Linked DNA regions of Homo sapiens: region 1 is linked to region 2. A link means that fine-mapping ties the variant in region 2 to the expression of a gene that starts in the linked region. Tissue or cell type: whole blood. Region 2 holds a variant in brackets; the other region holds the start of a gene. All regions are shown on one strand. Distances are from middle to middle.

Region 1 (8,100 bases), 58 kb before region 2:
GCCACCCCCTGAAGTTCAGACAGGACACCACCCTCTCCCCCGACAGCTTTTCTGATAGTCTGATTAACTATGGGCTGGTGGCTGGGTGGACATGGTGGCACATGCCTATAATCCCAGAGCTTTGGGTGGCCTAGTCGGGACCTGAAGCCAGGAGTTCAAGACCAGCCTGAGCAACAAACTGAGCTCTCATCTCTTACAAAACACAAATAAATAAAAAATTAGTCAGGTGTGGTGGCGCATGCCTGTAGTCCCAGCTACTCGAGATTGAGGTGGGAGCATCGTTTGAGCCCAGGAGGTCGAGGTTGCAGTGAGCTATGATCACGCCTCTGCATTCCAGCCTGGTGACAGAGTGAGACCCTCAGCTCTAAATACCAAAACCAGGCGGAGTGCAGTGGCTCACGCCTGTAATCCCAGCACTTTGGGAGGCCAAGGTGGGCAGATCAATTGAGGTCAGGAGTTCAAGACCAGCCTGGCCAACATGGCAAAATCCTGTCTCTTCTAAAAATACAAAAATTAGCTGACCGTGATGGCACGCACCTGCAATCCCAGCTACTCAGGAGGCTGAGGCACGAGAATTGCTTGAACCCAGGAGGAGAGGTTGCAGTGAGCTGAGATCATGCCACTGCACTCCAGCCTGGGTGATAGAGTTAGACTCTGTCTCAAACAAACAAACAAATAAACAAAACCCAAACAAAATGAAACAATGGGCTGGGACTTGGGGAATGGGAGGGTGCTACCTGTGGTAGCCAGGGATAGTTGTGGCTGTTTCCCATTTTAAGGTTAATTTCTCTGCCTGGAGGGAGGTGTCATGCCATTGACTAGGGTGGTCTCAATTCAGGGGAGTCCAGCTTGGCCTAGAGGCGCCCCACTTTTGTCTGCCTGAGGAAAGGTCATCACTCTGGTTGGTTCTGAACTCAGTATCCAGAGGCTCAGGGAAGGGAGTAGACTCTCAGTTAAATATGCTATTATTTTATCAACGCGGTAACTCTTCAAGACTTGAATGGATCTGGAAGCTATGGAGAGAGAGAAAGAGGAAGGGAGGTAGAGAGAGGCGAACCAGGCAGGAGCGGACAGCCAGGGTGGGAAGAACAGAGGTTGCAAGGAGAGAAAGTGACCAGGGTGGGAAGAAGCAGAGAAGGAAGGGCAGGGGGAAAGACGAGAGGGGGTGGGAAGGGGGTAGAGAGTGAAAGAAACCAGCAAGGGCCAGGTGCGGTGGCTCACTCCTGTAATCCCAGCACTTTGGGAGGCTGAGGCGGGCGGATCACTTGAGGTCAGGAGTTAGGGACCAACCTGGCCAACACGGTGAAACCCCATCTCAATTAAAAATACAAAAATTGGCTGGGCACGGTGGCTCATGCCTGTAATCCCAGCACTTTGGGAGGCCGAGGCGGGTGGATCACGAGGTAAGGAGATTGAGACCATCCTGGCTAACACGGTGAAACCCCATCTCCACCAAATATGCAAAAAATTAGCCGGGCGTAGTGGCAGGCACCTGTATTCCCAGCTACTCAGGAGGCTGAGGCAGGAGAATGGCGTGAACCCAGGGGGCGGAGTTTGCAGTGAGCTGAGATCGCGCCACTGCACTCCAGCCTGGGTGACACAGCGAGACTCCGTCTCAAAAAAAAAAAAAAAAAAAGAAGGAAAAAAAATTAGCTGGACATGATGGTGTGTGCCTGTAGTCCCAGCTACTCGGGAAGCTGAGGTTGGAGAATTGCTTGAACCTGGAAGGTGGAGGTTGCAAGATTGCAGTGAGCTGAGATCGTGCCACTGTGCTCCCACTGGGCAAGACTCTGTATAAAAAAAAAAAAAAGAGAAATCAGCAAGAAGAGAGCAACAGGGAAGGAAGGGAAGGTGGGAGTGGAGCTGCTGTTGAAGGAAGCTTCCTCAGGTCCCTGCCTGGGGCCTCCCTCTCCTGCATGCCTGTGTGTGCACTCACAACACCTACGCATGCACATACAAGGACACAGGTGTTCGCGAAAGTGCACACGTGTGCACTGACACCCACCCCCTCAGGCACTGCCCGCAGAATCTGCACTGCTGGGTGTGTGGGTGTTGCCACGGTGACTGGTGCTGGAGCATCACCTTGTGGGTATTAATAGCTTCCCCTGAAGCCATCAAAACAGTGACTTCATCAGCCCCAGTCTCCCTGGCAGTTTCCTTCTTCCTCTTCCCTTCCAGGATGGGTCTGGGAAGGGTCTTCTGGATCAGAGCCACCACCCAGGCACCCCACCCCTATGAGCTGCCTTGGGGAAGGATGGCAGGAAGGCCTCTGAGTTCTGCCCAAGGTCTGGGGGTAAGGAGACTGCTGGCCTTCTTTAACCCTCTGAGCTGGGTCTACCCTAAGTCCCTGCCAGGGAGGAGTTGCTGGGGCACAGGACTCCTCAGAAGGGCCACGCTCAACTTCTCTGAGTCCTATGCAGCCACACCAACCTCCTCTAGGTCCCTTCCTGGCCAGAGACCTAGTTGACTCTAACAGTGGTGTCCCCTCTTCCAGTACAGAGCTCCCTGAAGTACTAGGGTGAAGGTAGAGAGGGGCCTAGGGCGTGAAATATAAGAGGACCTAATTCCCAGGCTCGCGCAAGTGCAAGCTTGGTATCTGCATGAACTTGAGAGTTGGCGCCTTCTTCAATTTTGCGCCAGGGATGCCTTGGCTACCTCATCCTATCCCAGCCCTATTGATACTCCCATCAGCTCCTCAACCCTCAGTTCCCTGCCTTTGTCCCTGACGCCTCTCACCTTCCTTTGGGACTCCCTGGGATCACGCTGCCCTGAACTGCAGAACCTGGGCTGCCTCTGGACTCAGGTGAGCATCCGCCTCTGGCCTTCACTTCCCTCCTTCCCTTTGACGTCTTCCTCTCTCCCCTGCTTTGCCCATAGCCCCAGGTCTAGGCCATGTGGGGCCTGTGACATCCCTTTGTCAGGCGCGGTGGCTCATGCCTGTAATCCCAGTACTTTGGGAGTCCGAGGCAGGTGGATCACCTGAGGTCAGCAGTTCAAGACATCCCTGCTGTGCTCTACCTTTGGGGCCTCATCCCCTCCCCCATTCCCCTGCCCACACCAGGCTTCCCTGGAGCCACCGTCTGTAAATCCTAGCTAGGCCCTTGTACTTCAAACACACTCTAGCAGGATGAGTCTCAACTATGCAGAGTCCTCATATTTGTTCTAACTTGTGAAAGGCCTGATTCTAGTGGCCACTCACAGTGACTTCATTCCGGCAGATTTCAGGGGGAATATAAGTGTGTGTGCTTGTATAGGTGTGAGTGTGTGAGATAGTGTAGCGGTGTGTTAGCACATGTGTGAGTGTGTTGCCATTAAGAGCCTGTGGATTTCTGATGCATGAGTCATTAGCTGGGAGTGAGCCTTGGGAAGATACTGCCCATAAATAAGACAGCCATCCCTGACCTGCTGTGGCCATCTGCAGCTGCCTGCACACGTGATCCTGGGCATCTGGGAGGCTGGAGGCCGGGTTCGGGGCTGCCTTTCCCTCCAGATTCCAGAGAGACAGTGGCTGTCACAGATATTTCTAGCTTGCCTGGAGTCCCAGACATTTAAGGGTAGAATGCCTGGAATGGGGATGGAGAGAGGAGAGTAGGAGAGGAAAATAAAGGGTGGTTCAGGAGGCTCTGCCCCCAGGGATCTCAGTGGAGCCTCCTGGCCCACAGTGGGAAGCATGCATTCCACAATTATTTTCTGAGAATCTGTCACATGCCAGGCATTCCCCCAGTGGGTAAGGACACCCTGGTGAACACGACTGACCTGTGCTCTCCCCTCACAGAGCTTATGTTCTAGCAGGGAGGCAGAAGATAAACGAGGAAAGGCTACTTGTAAACAAGTTCCATATAAAAGCTATGATGAAAATAAAATGGAATATTGTGGAAAGTGACTGACAGTGGAGGGGGTCCTTTAGTTGGGGCAGTCAGGGAATGTCAGGACACGAATTGTGCCTAGATAATGAGGAGCTGCCAAATGGAGACTTGGGGGAAGAACCTTTATTACAGAAAAGGATACATGAGATGTCCCCCTGCCCACCCATGTCTTCACTGGACTCTGGATCTGAGTTGCTGAAGCCAGAGCAGGGAGCTAGAGATGACTTAGAGGAGCAGGAAGTCTGATTCCCTGGGGGGAACCTTGGAACATCTTCCATCCCTGATAGACCAGGAGAGATGCCCCGGGTCCAGGAAGGAGAAGAATGACTTCTGTTTCCCTTCCTGAAGGCTTCTTGGTGCAGTGTTGAGCTACAGGAAGGCACTAGCCACATGAGCAGGGCCCTTGCTGAAACCCCCTTCCTCCAGGAAGCCTTCTTTGACTGCCATAGGCTGCAGAGGCTCCTCTCCCCCACCTTGTTATAGCTAACAGAACCACTCAGTTCAGAGCTGGTGGTCTTCTGATGATCTGTCCCGGAGATCTGTTCCCTCAGCTTGGCCAGAGCTCCAGGCTTGTGAGTCTGGTCCGCGGGCATTCAAAGGCCCTCAGTGGCATCTGTGCATCAGTGAGACTGCCCGGGGTTCCTGCTCTGAACCCTTGCCCTAGTGCCCCTAGCCTGGCTGAGAACGGAGGGTCAAGTGCCGGGGTTCTAATCTCAATTACTTTATCCAAGCATCCGCTCGCTCATTTACATGTTTCCCTGGGCTCTCCACTCTGCGCCAGGCCCGGTACCTGGAGCTAGGGAAACCGAACATTAGTGCTGGCTCGCCCGCCCCCGCATCCGGGGAGCTCGGCGTTCTCGCGGCCCTGCTCCCCTTGTTTTCAAGTGCAAGTTCCATGTTTCCGTGCTGGGAATAAGGCCAGCCCCGGGTGCCACCATACTCGCCTGATGTCTTACCCCGACCCGCGCCGCCGAGAGCTTGCGGCTACGGGAACGCGGCGCGCCCCGGGGCCACATCTGGCCTAGCGGGCGCGCGCGTGTCACTAAGACGCTCATTCACCGGCGCAGCTGTCACCATAACAACCGGAGCGAGGGAATCCTGGAGACTGCCGGGGCGGGGGGCGGGGGCGGCGGTCGCAGGAGGGACCCGGCGCGGGCGGGACCGCGGCGGTCGGGGGACACCAGCTGCGTCGGAGCGCCCAGAACGCCCCGCGCTCCGCCGAGCCCCGCTCCACGCAGACCCGCGGGCGGGAGGGAGCCACGCACATCGCCGCCGCGGCCGTCTCCGCGGGGCGGTAACCGAGCCTGCCTCGGAGCCGCCGAACGCCCACGCCAGCGACCCTGACTCTATGGCCCCGGGGGAGCGCGCCGGAGCCGCCGCGCCGCCCACCCCCAGCCGGAACCCTAGCGTCCCGGGGAGCAAGCGGGGAGCCCCGGGCGTCCCCGGCCCCGGCCCAGGGCCCTGCTTGTGGCCCCCGCTCCCGCCACGGGGCATGGGAGGCAGGTAGCCCAGCCTGCGCCAGGACACCCGTGGCGGGCGGAACCCGCCAAGGACCGCGAAGTCCAGAGAAAGGAAGCTGAGGAGCTGCCCGCCCGCCCCCGGCTGCAGCCCCAGCAGGGCCCTCCCCCGGTGGCGCGCACCCGCGCGCGCACACTCGCACACCGCACCTCAGCGCCTGCCCGGCCTCGCCCCCACCCGCGAGCGCCGAACCTCCTGGGGCCGGATGCCATGGGTAACAACTTCTCCAGTATCCCCTCGCTGCCCCGAGGAAACCCGAGCCGCGCGCCGCGGGGCCACCCCCAGAACCTCAAAGGTAGGCTCCCCGGCCGAGCGCTGCTGGAGGACTGGGGCGCAGGTGGAGGGCCAGGGAGGTGTGGTTGGGGAGGGCGGGCAGACGCCACCTGTTGTGCGTGTCTGGAGGCCGGAGATGCACCTCTGGCCGTGGAGTGGGCTGGGGGTGGAGGGCAGCCGGCGATGATGGTGATGGAGGATGGCGTCCCGCGGGGTCTGCGCAGTTCTGTCTGCTGGCACTGGGAACGTCACTGGAGTCCCCTCAGGCCATGGTCTTAGGCGAGCCTGAAGAGATGGGAAAGGATGTTTGCCAGGTCGATAGGGGAGTGGGGAGTGAGGAGGGAAGCTTGGGTCGTCCGTGTCTCCAGGGAGGCACCTCGATGGGTCTCCTTTCCATCGGCCCTAGGGCTGGAGAGACCAGGCTGGGAGCACTAGTTGCATTTCCAATGGGAGGGTTTTAAAAATTCAGGACAGGATTACAGCAGCCTGGAAGAAAGGGTCAGAGCTGCTGGTTCCTGGGGTCCTTTGCAGCCGTTGGGTTTTTGCATCCATTGAATTAGTTTGATTTCTGGTTTTCCCAAAGACCAGATATCCAGTCAGAGCCCTAGAAAAGAGGGTCTGGGAGCCTTGAAACAGAGGGACATTTACTAGGAATGTCTTTGCTCTTCACCTCCCCAGATCCACTCAGCACCCTCAGGGTGGCCCTAGGCCCAGTCTCCCCATTCGGAGCCTGCCATTCCTGTCTTGGATCTTCCAATGCTGTCTCTGACCTTTGGAAGACACTGCTGGGTCCTCCCGGGCCCTCAGACCCTACTAAATTCCTTCCGGAAGGTGCTTTTCTGTCACCTCAGAACCAGTGGCACTTGTCCTGGGCATGATGGCTAAAAGCCAGGAAGGGAAGCCCTTGGGCTTTCAGAAAGAATACCCCACTTCCTAAGCTCCTCAGGTTATGAGAAGGATAACAATAGTGCCCTTTAACACAAGGCATCGAACTTTCTCAAACACATTTTCAGTGAGCATGGACACTGCTTGGGGTAGTCAGCAGAGCAGAGCTAATCACACTATACCCATTTTACAGATGAGGAGAACCAAGGCTTGCTTCAGGTTCCCAAAGCCAGCCAGACCTCGGCGCTAGGTGCTAGGCTGTAGACCCCTATCTTTTGACTTGGAATTCTGTCCCTTCTTTTGCTGAACAGTTAACTTTTAAGACCAGGGAAGAGGAGGAGAGATAGGACCACTGTCCTGCATTCTAATACTCCAGCTCTTTCAGAACTTCAGCTTTCACTTGGCTCAGGAAAATCAGTGGATTTGTTGTGTCTTTCTGGAAATTAATATGGCAATACATGTCAAGATACTTTAAAAATATCAATTTGTTGGCAGGGTGCGGTGGCTCACGCCTGTAATCCGAGCACTTTGGGAGGCTGAGGCAGGTGGATCACTTGAGGTCAGGAGTTCCAGACCAGCCTGGCCAACATGGCGAAACACTGTCTCTACTAAAAATACAAAAATTAGCCGGGCATAGTGGTGCGTGCCTATGATCCCAGCTACTTGGGAGGCAGATAGGCAGGAGAATCCCTTGAATCTGGCAGATGGAAGTTGCAGTGAGCTGAGATCGTTCCACTGCACTCCAGCCTGAGCGACAGAGCGAGACTCTGTCTTGCTAAAAAAAAAAAAAAAATCAGTTTGTTGACCTTGTAATTCTACCTTGAGGAATTGATACTAAGGAAGTGGAGATGCAGGAATATATACTTATGGCACTAGGCTAGGATGTTCATGGCAGTGTTATTTATACTAGGTGGATAACCTAAATGCTCAGTAATCATGGTATATATTCTTGGTAGAGTACTATGCAGTGATTACAATTATATTTGTGAAGAATAGTTGATGACTGTGGAAAATGCTCACAGTATAACGACAGAATACAAAGTTGTGAAGACTGTATGATCCCAATTTTGTTTAAAAAGTGGTGTGAATGCAAAAAACCCCAACAAAAACAAAACAAGCAAAAATGCTTGTAAAGTTTCCAAAGGGTTAACAATTATTTCCTCTGGGTATAGGATCATATGGGATTGCATTTTTTCTTTTTTATATTTTGCTCTTTTCTAAAATTTCTATAATAAGGAAGTATTATTTTTGTAATCAGAAATAAGCTATCAGTGTTAGCAAGTATGAAGACTGTTTCTGAGCATTGGAAACAGATTCCTAATGAACCTATGAATATCGTTCAGCTCAACCTTCTCTGCAAGTGAGAATAATGAGGGAAAAGAATAATTATTTGCCCAAATTAAAGTGGCAAAACTTGGCCCTGTCCTTCAGGGGGCAAGGGTTAGCTGGGGGCAGGGGTTAGTTGGCCCTTAATATTCACAGACTATCTTCCTGAGAAGGTCTTGCTCCATCCTTGACTCTGTGGAAACCCAGAGAGCTCCCAACTAATTGCATCTTT
Region 2 (8,100 bases):
AGCTAGGCACTATTACTATCAACCCAATTTTTCAGAAGAGGAAATGGACACTTAGTAGATGTTAGAACCAAGGTTTGAACCCGGGAAGTTTGACTCTGGAGCCTACTCTTAATTGCCACCTCTACTGTGAAGCCCCTAGTGTAGACAACACTGGTGGCACTGAGTAGTATTTGCTGTGTCACAGCACTGGGATCCAGCTGCCAGTGGCCATACTGGGAGTACCCCAGCCAAGGGCCTGAGCCCCTGTGGGGTCCTGTACTGTCACTTTGTTGTAGCTACTGACACCCAGTATCTGAGCCCAAAGGTTGGAGTCAGAGGCCCCAGGAGGGGTAGCAGGCAGGGGCAGGGCCAGGGCATGGGAGCAGAAGTGGAGGCCAAGTCAGCTGGTCCTGGGCTTGGCCATCCCTCTGTAAGCTGGACCTGGGAGAGGCAGGAAGCAGGCAAGAGCCAGAGGAAGCAGAATCCCCAGAGGAAGGAGGGGGGCCTCCCAGCTTTGGGGTGGCTTCAGCTAGCTGGGGGCCTGACACAAGAAGGAGTGGGCACCAGGAGCGTAGGCTGAGCCGTGGGGCTAAAGTTGTATATGTGAATGTGAGTGTGAGTGTGTGCGTGGGGTGGAGGTGAAGGGAGGGATGGATTGAGGAGGATCTCTGCCTGTGGAGGAGGGATTTAACCTCCTGTTATCAGCTGCCAGCTTTTCTCATAATCCAGGCAGGCCCATCAGGGATCAGCAGAGTGTGTTTCCGCATCTCGGATGGACGAGGCCCATGTCTTGTTCCAGCACATCCCGCGCTCATCCTGTCTCCTGCGACACCCTGGGTCTCCTCATTTCTCTGCGTCTCTTCTCCCCATAAAGTCTCGTTGCCTGCCCTTCCTCACCCTCCCCATCCAGGTTCTGGTGTAGGGAGCAAATCTTATGTATTCAGACCCTGCTAATTTATCACTTGTGATTGCTGGGACAAAGGCTAGCTTCCAGTTTAAAATTCATTCTATTCCTGAACAAAAATGCAGCACTAACCAGGTGATAAGGGACTGTTTAATCTACTTCCTTAGAAGAACTGACTGCTACCCAGTGCTCTGAAATGGCATTTGCATGTGAGGCACCCATGCAATCATACATGCAAAGCTTAGAATGTGCCTGATGCAGAGTAAGCGGGTACCGAGTAAATGTTTCTTATTAAAGCAGGTCTTCTATTTCTCCTCCTTGGGGTAATATGTATTTTTCTTTTTTTTTGAGATAGTTTTCACTCTTGTCACCCAGGCTGGAGTGCAATGGCACAATCTCGGCTCACTGCAACCTCCACCTCCCGGGTTCAATTGATTCTCCTGCCTCGGCCTCCCGAGCAGCTGGGATTACAGGGGTGTGCCACCACGCCTGGCTAATTTTTGTATTTTTAGTAGAGACAGGGTTTCATCATGTTGGCCAGGATGGTCTCGAACTCCTGACCTCAGGTGATCTGCCCGCCTCGGCCTCCCAAAGTGCTGGGATTACAGGTGTGAGCCACCACGCCTGGCTGTATTCTTAGTGCTATATGCATATCCTGCATCCCAAGTCACTCTTCTCCAAGGCTGGGACAGAGACTTTAGTCCTTCCAGTTCTACGTGGATTCCCGAGTTCTCTGACTCTCAAGCGTTGCTGTTATGGATGGAGCCAGGCAGCGGCCGTCACAGGTGTTATGTTATTCAGTTCTCACAAGTTTCTGGGCCATGTGATCTCCACCATGGAGAAGAGATGGTGGAGCCTCAGAGAAGCTCAGTAGCTTGCCTGTCCAACCTGAAGACCAGAGCTCCCACCCTCCATGTGGGTGGGGTGGGCACATCCATCCACCCTTCCTGACCTGTGACACAGATCTTATCATAGGCAAATGTTTGCCTCCAGCTAGGGACTCAGTGGGTGTGGGCTTTGTCTGGCACACTCTGTCCTGGGAATAGAAACCTGGTTTCTTCCTTGTTCCATCCTTTCTGCCTGGCATGGATGGTGATCCTTCTGTCCAGTCTACGCTGGCCATGCTGGCCCTGAGGCCTGGAACTGGGGAGCACGAGCAGGTGTGTTTGTGTCTTGGAGAGGCCGAGAAAGGGCTGCTTGGCAGTGGGCCTTGGCAGGGAGGGACCTCAACTCCATCCAGGTTCTGTTTGCTCAGATTCCCTTTCAGTCTCCACCCCTCCTCTGCACCTGTTGTGTTCCCATCCTCCTGGGCGGCTGGCAGCTGTCACGGCTGGGGCACCTGTCCCAACCCCCGAGGACGCCCTCTGGGCTCCCTGGCTCCAGTTTCTCTGCAGCACTTGGCTTGCACTCTCCATCTCTGAGTACTTTTGCTCTCCTCTCCCTCCTCATCTCTCACTCTTCCAGACTCGAGGCAGCAGCCTCCACTCTTGTCCTGGCTCTGGGCATAGAAGGAAGCTTTCAGCTGGGGTTCCCTGCTTCCTATTCTCTACTGCCAGGCCCAGCCTAATGAGTAGAGAGGATGGGGCCCTGGCAGGATGGCCATAAGCCTCAAATGCTGATGAGGCGGCTCATCAACTCAATCAAATTATCCCTTGTTCTTGATGAAGGAAACACTATAGCAGCAAGGGGCTGCCTCCCAGCTCCTCCACAGCAGGGTCACCTCCTCTTCCTGGCCTCCCCAGACCCTAGTCACTTCCCCCTACTTCATAAAAAGAAGTTACCCCCTCCCTTGTCCAGTGTTGTCTTCTATACCTCCTGATGCCTGGATTTATATGTCATATTAGGCATAGCAGCAGAAGACATTACTCCTGGGTCCCAGTCCTCCTTGCCTTCCACCCACTGTGTGGCCTTGGCAAAGTCTCTATCATTTATTGGGCCTTCTTTGCTACACCTGTAAAATGGGCCCAGAACTTCTTTGCCTGCTTGAAGGTAGGGGCTGGCCCCAGTGCTCTCTGGAGGCTCTTCCCCATTAGAGAGCTTGGTGACTGTGACTGTGATGGTTTCTATTCCCCAGTGAATTTGTTCCATGTTTTATTCTGGAGTTGCTGGCTCTGCCTTAGACTTTGAGTTCTGAGAGGGCAGGTTTAGGCTGGGAATGAGGTGCTAGGCCTTGGGGAACCTGGATGAGAGAGGACTTGGTGAGGAAAGCCTTGAGCTAGGTAGACCATCATGGAAACCAAGATGGCACCCAAGGGAAGAGGAGCTGTCTGAAAGGGGTCAGGGGACAGGAGATGGCAGGGAAAAGAGGGACAGCTATAGTAGTGGGGAGGGCCTTGGGAGCTGAATGGGTTCAGAGAGCCAAGGGGCCTAAGGTTCCCTAGATGGCATGAGAGGACAGATGCAGCTGGGGATTCTGTCAGACCAGGCCCCCAGGGGCACTGCCAGCCCTGCTTCCTGCCTGCAGGCTTTGAGGTATTAAGTCCCCACCCAGGTCATATATGGGTCTGTGTTCTTCACAATTTCCAGGATGACATCTCCAGTGTCTGTCTGGGTCACCTGTTAGCGGATGAGAAGTCCAGCCTTACTGCCTGTTCTCCACCTGCATTTAGGCTTCATCCCTGGAATGTCACCTTCTGTCTTCTGGAAAACGTCTAGGCTCTGCTGCCATACAGAACCCTTCTGCTTCCTTAAGGAGACGGTCCACTGTCCCCTTGTCTTCTCTCCTCTAAGCAAGAGGGGCCCCTGCCCGTTGCCCTTTCCTGGATGGAGCATGAGTTTTGATGTCAGGCAGGTCTGGGTTTGAAGCCTCGTTTGTCTTGCCTTCAGAATAACCTCTCTAAGCCTCAGTTTTATAGCCCGAAAATGGGGGTGATTATAACTCCTGAAGGGAAGTTTTGGGATTGGCTGATACATAAGATACTTAGCACAGTGCCTGGCACACAGTAAGCGATCAATAAATGGTAGCATTTATAGCTTCTGCTATATATTTACTTATAGCCTCTCCATTCCCCTTTCACATCGTTTCCAAAGTGCGGCTATAGAATGGAACACAGATCATTTAGCCAGAGCTGAAAGAACCTGATTCCTCAATCCCTGCCTGGCTTCTGCTGGGATCTGGAACTGCCTGTTACCCCGTCCATGCCCGTTTTACACCCCTGGCTTCTGCAGGGTGGGCATTGGGTCCTGCTCACCAGTTGGTGTATAGTGGGCACTCAGTGAATGGTTGATGAATGAATAAGTGAATGAATGATGTATGTTAGTGATTTTCTCACCCTTTTAGTAACAGAATCCTTTGGTCAAATGAATTTTTTTTTTTTTTTTTTTTTTTGAGATGGAGTCTCGCTCTGTCGCCCAGGCTGGACTGCAGTGGCACAATCTTGGCTCACTGCAACCTCCACCTCCTGGGTTCACACGATTCTCCTGCCTCAGCCTCCCCAGTAGCTGGGATTACAGGCGTGTGCCACCACGCCTGGCTAACTTTTTATATTTTTGGTAGAGATGGGGTTTCACCATGTTGGCAAGGCTGGTCTTGAACTCCTGACCTCAAGTGATCCACCCGTCTCAGCCTCCCAAAGTGCTGGGATTACAGGTGTAAGCCACTGTGCCCGGCCCCAAATGAAATTTTATGGGATGCCCCAGTGAATAAAACAGAGAAGGGGTGCAGCTCTTCTGCCATATCCCGGGGCTGCCTCTCCCTCTAGAGGTCCTGGACACTGCCTGAGGAAGTGACAGGAGAGGGAAGCCTCAGACACAGGACATTGATTGCCACATCCTATTTGGGGAAGTGATTGTGGGAAACAGGCTCATACGTCTGTGGGAAAACCCTTTTAGACTGCAGTGTCA[A/G]AGGCCTGGGGGCCACTCGGGCCACCTCCCAGTTCTCTGTTCTGTTTCACTCAAGTGGCCAGAGTTGGGGCTGCTGCTCATCTGAAGGACTTCCAGCTCGTGGAGCCCCAAACCTGCCCCATCCCTGCTTGCTTACCACTTGGCTGCTTTCCCACAGTCCTGTGTCTGAAAATTACATGATTTCAGGTCTGTTTGTGAGATGTTTTCTGAGTGCCTGCTCCGGGCAGGGGCAGGAGTGATGTGAAGCCCGAGGGGAGTGAGGCTAAGTCAGGCAAGGCTCACCCTGTGGGGTGCAGGATGCGGGATGTTGCTGCTGCTGCTCCCTCCCCTTGAGCCTCCTGCCTCCTCCCTCACCCTTCACAACCAGATAGGACAGTGACTTTCTGAAATGTGGGTCTGGTCTGTTGCCTCCCTGCTGCAGGACTTCCCTATTGCTCTCAGGAAGAAGGCCAGAGTCTTCGCCCTTCTCCTCAAGACCCTCCTGGTGTATCCCTGACCCATCCTGGCTCGGCAATGGAGCGTTTCCTGAGGCTCCTCCTGCTCACCCTGCTCCATACCAACCTTGCTTCTGGAACACACCAGCTCTCTCCAGCCACAGGGCCTTTGCCTATGTTGTACTCACTCTCTCCCCTAAGCCACCTCCACAGCACAGGGCCATTAGCCTTCAGATCTTGCCTTCACTGTTGCTTTTCAGGAAAGCCTGTCCTGAGCCTCCCAGAACCTTGCTCCTTTCTTTCAGACCCTTTTTCTCAGGTTGTGATGATATACTCCTTAGTGAGACTACTGGATAAATGTCTGTTTCCTTCTGGACTGGAAGTCCGCGAGAGCTAGGACCTGCCACTGAGGGCCACCCTTGCATCCTTAGTGTCTGACACATAGTAGGGGATCAATAAATGTGGGTAGAGTTGAATTAAATGGTTGAGGTGCACCCAGGAGAAGCTGGGGCAAGCAGATAGGGCCCCAGCCAGGCCATGGCTCTCTCTGTATAGGACCGAGTAGGGTAAGTGTTAGGAGATGCCCAGCTCAGGAGCTCAGAGGAAATATAAGTGCCAAGAACAGGGACTTACTCTTACCTAGGGCCCTAGGGAGGCTTCCCAGAAGAAGTGTTCCCAGTGCTGGGTGATGGGAAGGGGGCATTCCAAGTGAGGAGAAGGCAGGAACCAAGGTGAGAGGGAGGCTGATGTCTGGGTGTGGGGCCATAGGAAGGCCAGGCTGGCATGTGCGAGGGATTGGTGGGCAAGGGGCCAGCTGAGTGTGTTAAAAGGCAGGCAGGGTGTGGAGGGTGACTCTGCTGCTACAGGAACAGCCTCCAAAGCATCTTCTTTTGGCCTCAATTTCCTCATCTGTAAAATGGGCATACACATACACTGATCTCTTAGGGTTGTCGTGAGGATTGAGCAAGTTAAATGCGTCACACGCTCAGGGCAGTGTGGATCATGCAGTAAGACCTCGTGTTTGCTGTTATTATGATCATTATCCGACAAAAGGAGTTTGGCTTACTTTCTCCTTGTCAGACTGACTTAGCTTCCCGCCCCCATGGGAACTGGGTATGTGTGCCAGGAAGTGTGTGCGTGTGTGTACGTGTGACTGCACAGCTATGAGCCGGTATGTGCCTGTGGAAAGTGGGCTGCCTTGTGCGGACTCGGGTGTCGTGGCTTCTCCCGGAAGTCGTGGGCATGCCTCTGGCTCAGGGGAGCATCGGCCGACTGGGCTTGCTCTCCCCCAGATCCCGCCCAGCCCTCTGCTGATGACTCTAGGTCAGGCCTGAATGTCCCTCCTAACCGCTTCCCCAGACCCACTCAGAAGTGGGAGCAGCAGGGTCTTGAGCTGCGGGCTCAGGACCCAGTCCAGTCCCTTACAGGGCCCAGGCCTCTGAGTTCCATCTGCTGTGGGACAGCCTCCACCTTTCCCGTGGCCCCTTCCTCAGCCCCTACCCCTCTGTCCTCCCACCTGCCCGCTGGCTTTCTCTTCCCACCCAGCCCTTTCCCTGGGGTCCAAGATCCCAGACCTTGAGGACAGGGGCTGGTGTCCAGGCCAGGGCCAGGGAGGATGGTGCTGTCCTGTTGTCCTGGTAGAGGCCCCTGAGCTTGTGTTGGATGGTGACATTGTCCCTCAGACATGGCCTGAGTCCTGGTCCTGCCTGTGACCTGCTGGGTAACCTCACGCAAGCTCCTTAGCCTCTCAGAACCTCCACTTTCTTCTCTGTAAAACAGATATCATCATAGCCACTGCCACCCACACAGTTCCTGGTGCACGGTGCATGCTCATTGCATGGCAGCTGCTCTCTTGATGATGATCTGGGCTCCCGGCATGCCTGCCCAGGGCTGGAGGGGCCTGCCATCCCAGCCTCCCTCTTCCCCCTCTGTTCCCACCTTTCCCTCTTCCCTGAGTGTGGGGTGCCAGTGTCCACCTTAAGATTTCTCTAGAAACTTTGCGAGTCTGTGGAAGCAGGCGTATGTTGACTGTGGACATTGAGAGGTGTGCATGTAACCATGTGAGTACATGTCTGGTGGTCAGTAGATGGCTGAGTGCGCTCAGTGGTGAATGCTCCCAAGTGCTTATGAGCCCATGTATATGCACATTTGTGTGACATGATGCAGAAGAATAGTGCAGGTCTGTGTTGGGGTGTGTGGTGTGTGTGTATGTGCATGGTTAAAGGGATAGGTTGGTGTGGGGGGGAAAAGCCTGGATTCTGGTGCTGCACTGCCTGGGTTTGCATTCCAGCCTTGCCACCTTTTAGGTGAGCAGCCTCTCTTTGTCTCAGTTTTCTCATCTGTAAGACCATCATCATCATCTTAGAGATGGTACCTGTTGATCTGTTGATAATGACTGTAATACTGACCTCATCATTCAGCCTGTGAGGACCAAAGGAGTTAATACTTGCAAAGCCCTTGGAACAGAGCCTGGAAGAAGACAGAAACGGTGTTAGCACTTGGTTAACAGCTCCATCAGCTTGATTGTGAACCTCTTGAGGGCAGGGACGATGTCTGTTTTGCTTCCCAGGGGGTCCCCTCTCACCTAGCAGGACCTCTGCATGTAGTAGGTGCATGAGGCTAGTGAATGAATGGCTGTCGGCCTGGGCGTTCAGGGAGGGCTGTGTGTGTCACTACATCCCTGAGATGGGGCTGTGTGTGATGGGGATGTGTGTGCGTGTGCGCGCCTCTGCTCGCTTTCTGGAGCTCGCTGCTATTTCAGGAAGCCTCCAGTCTCCTCCTCCTTATGTAAATAAACATGACAGATCCCATCGGCTGTACCAGCGCGGGAGGTGGGGAGGCTGGAGTGGGTGGGAGCGGGGAGGCGGCGGCCGGAGGGGTGTGCGTGCTGCGTGCGCGTGTGGCCGGCTGGCCGCGGGCGGGCGGCGTGCGCGTGTGCCG

Evidence for each region. PIP is the estimated chance that this variant, and not a neighbour inherited with it, causes the effect.
Region 1: NEURL1 starts here. The variant in region 2 is fine-mapped to the expression of NEURL1 in whole blood (TOPMed, PIP above 0.99). The same link has a PIP of 0.9 or more in monocytes.

Annotation. Positions count from the first base shown.
Region 1 is chr10:103,488,794-103,496,893 of GRCh38, forward strand. It overlaps NEURL1 (neuralized E3 ubiquitin protein ligase 1), which reads left to right and starts at 4,912. Exons shown (of 6, transcript NM_004210.5): 1 at 4,912-5,679. The coding sequence starts at 5,595. NEURL1-AS1 (NEURL1 antisense RNA 1) reads right to left here. Exons shown (of 4, transcript NR_120675.1): 3 at 5,768-5,942. RefSeq lists silencers at 1,822-1,891, 5,121-5,270, 5,281-5,410, 5,491-5,590 and an enhancer at 5,257-5,806.
Region 2 is chr10:103,547,110-103,555,209 of GRCh38, forward strand. The region is part of intron 1 of NEURL1 (neuralized E3 ubiquitin protein ligase 1); the gene reads left to right. Among named protein-coding and RNA genes, the nearest start is that of NEURL1-AS1, 34 kb to the left of the region's middle. The variant A/G (reference allele first, on the strand shown) is at 4,727.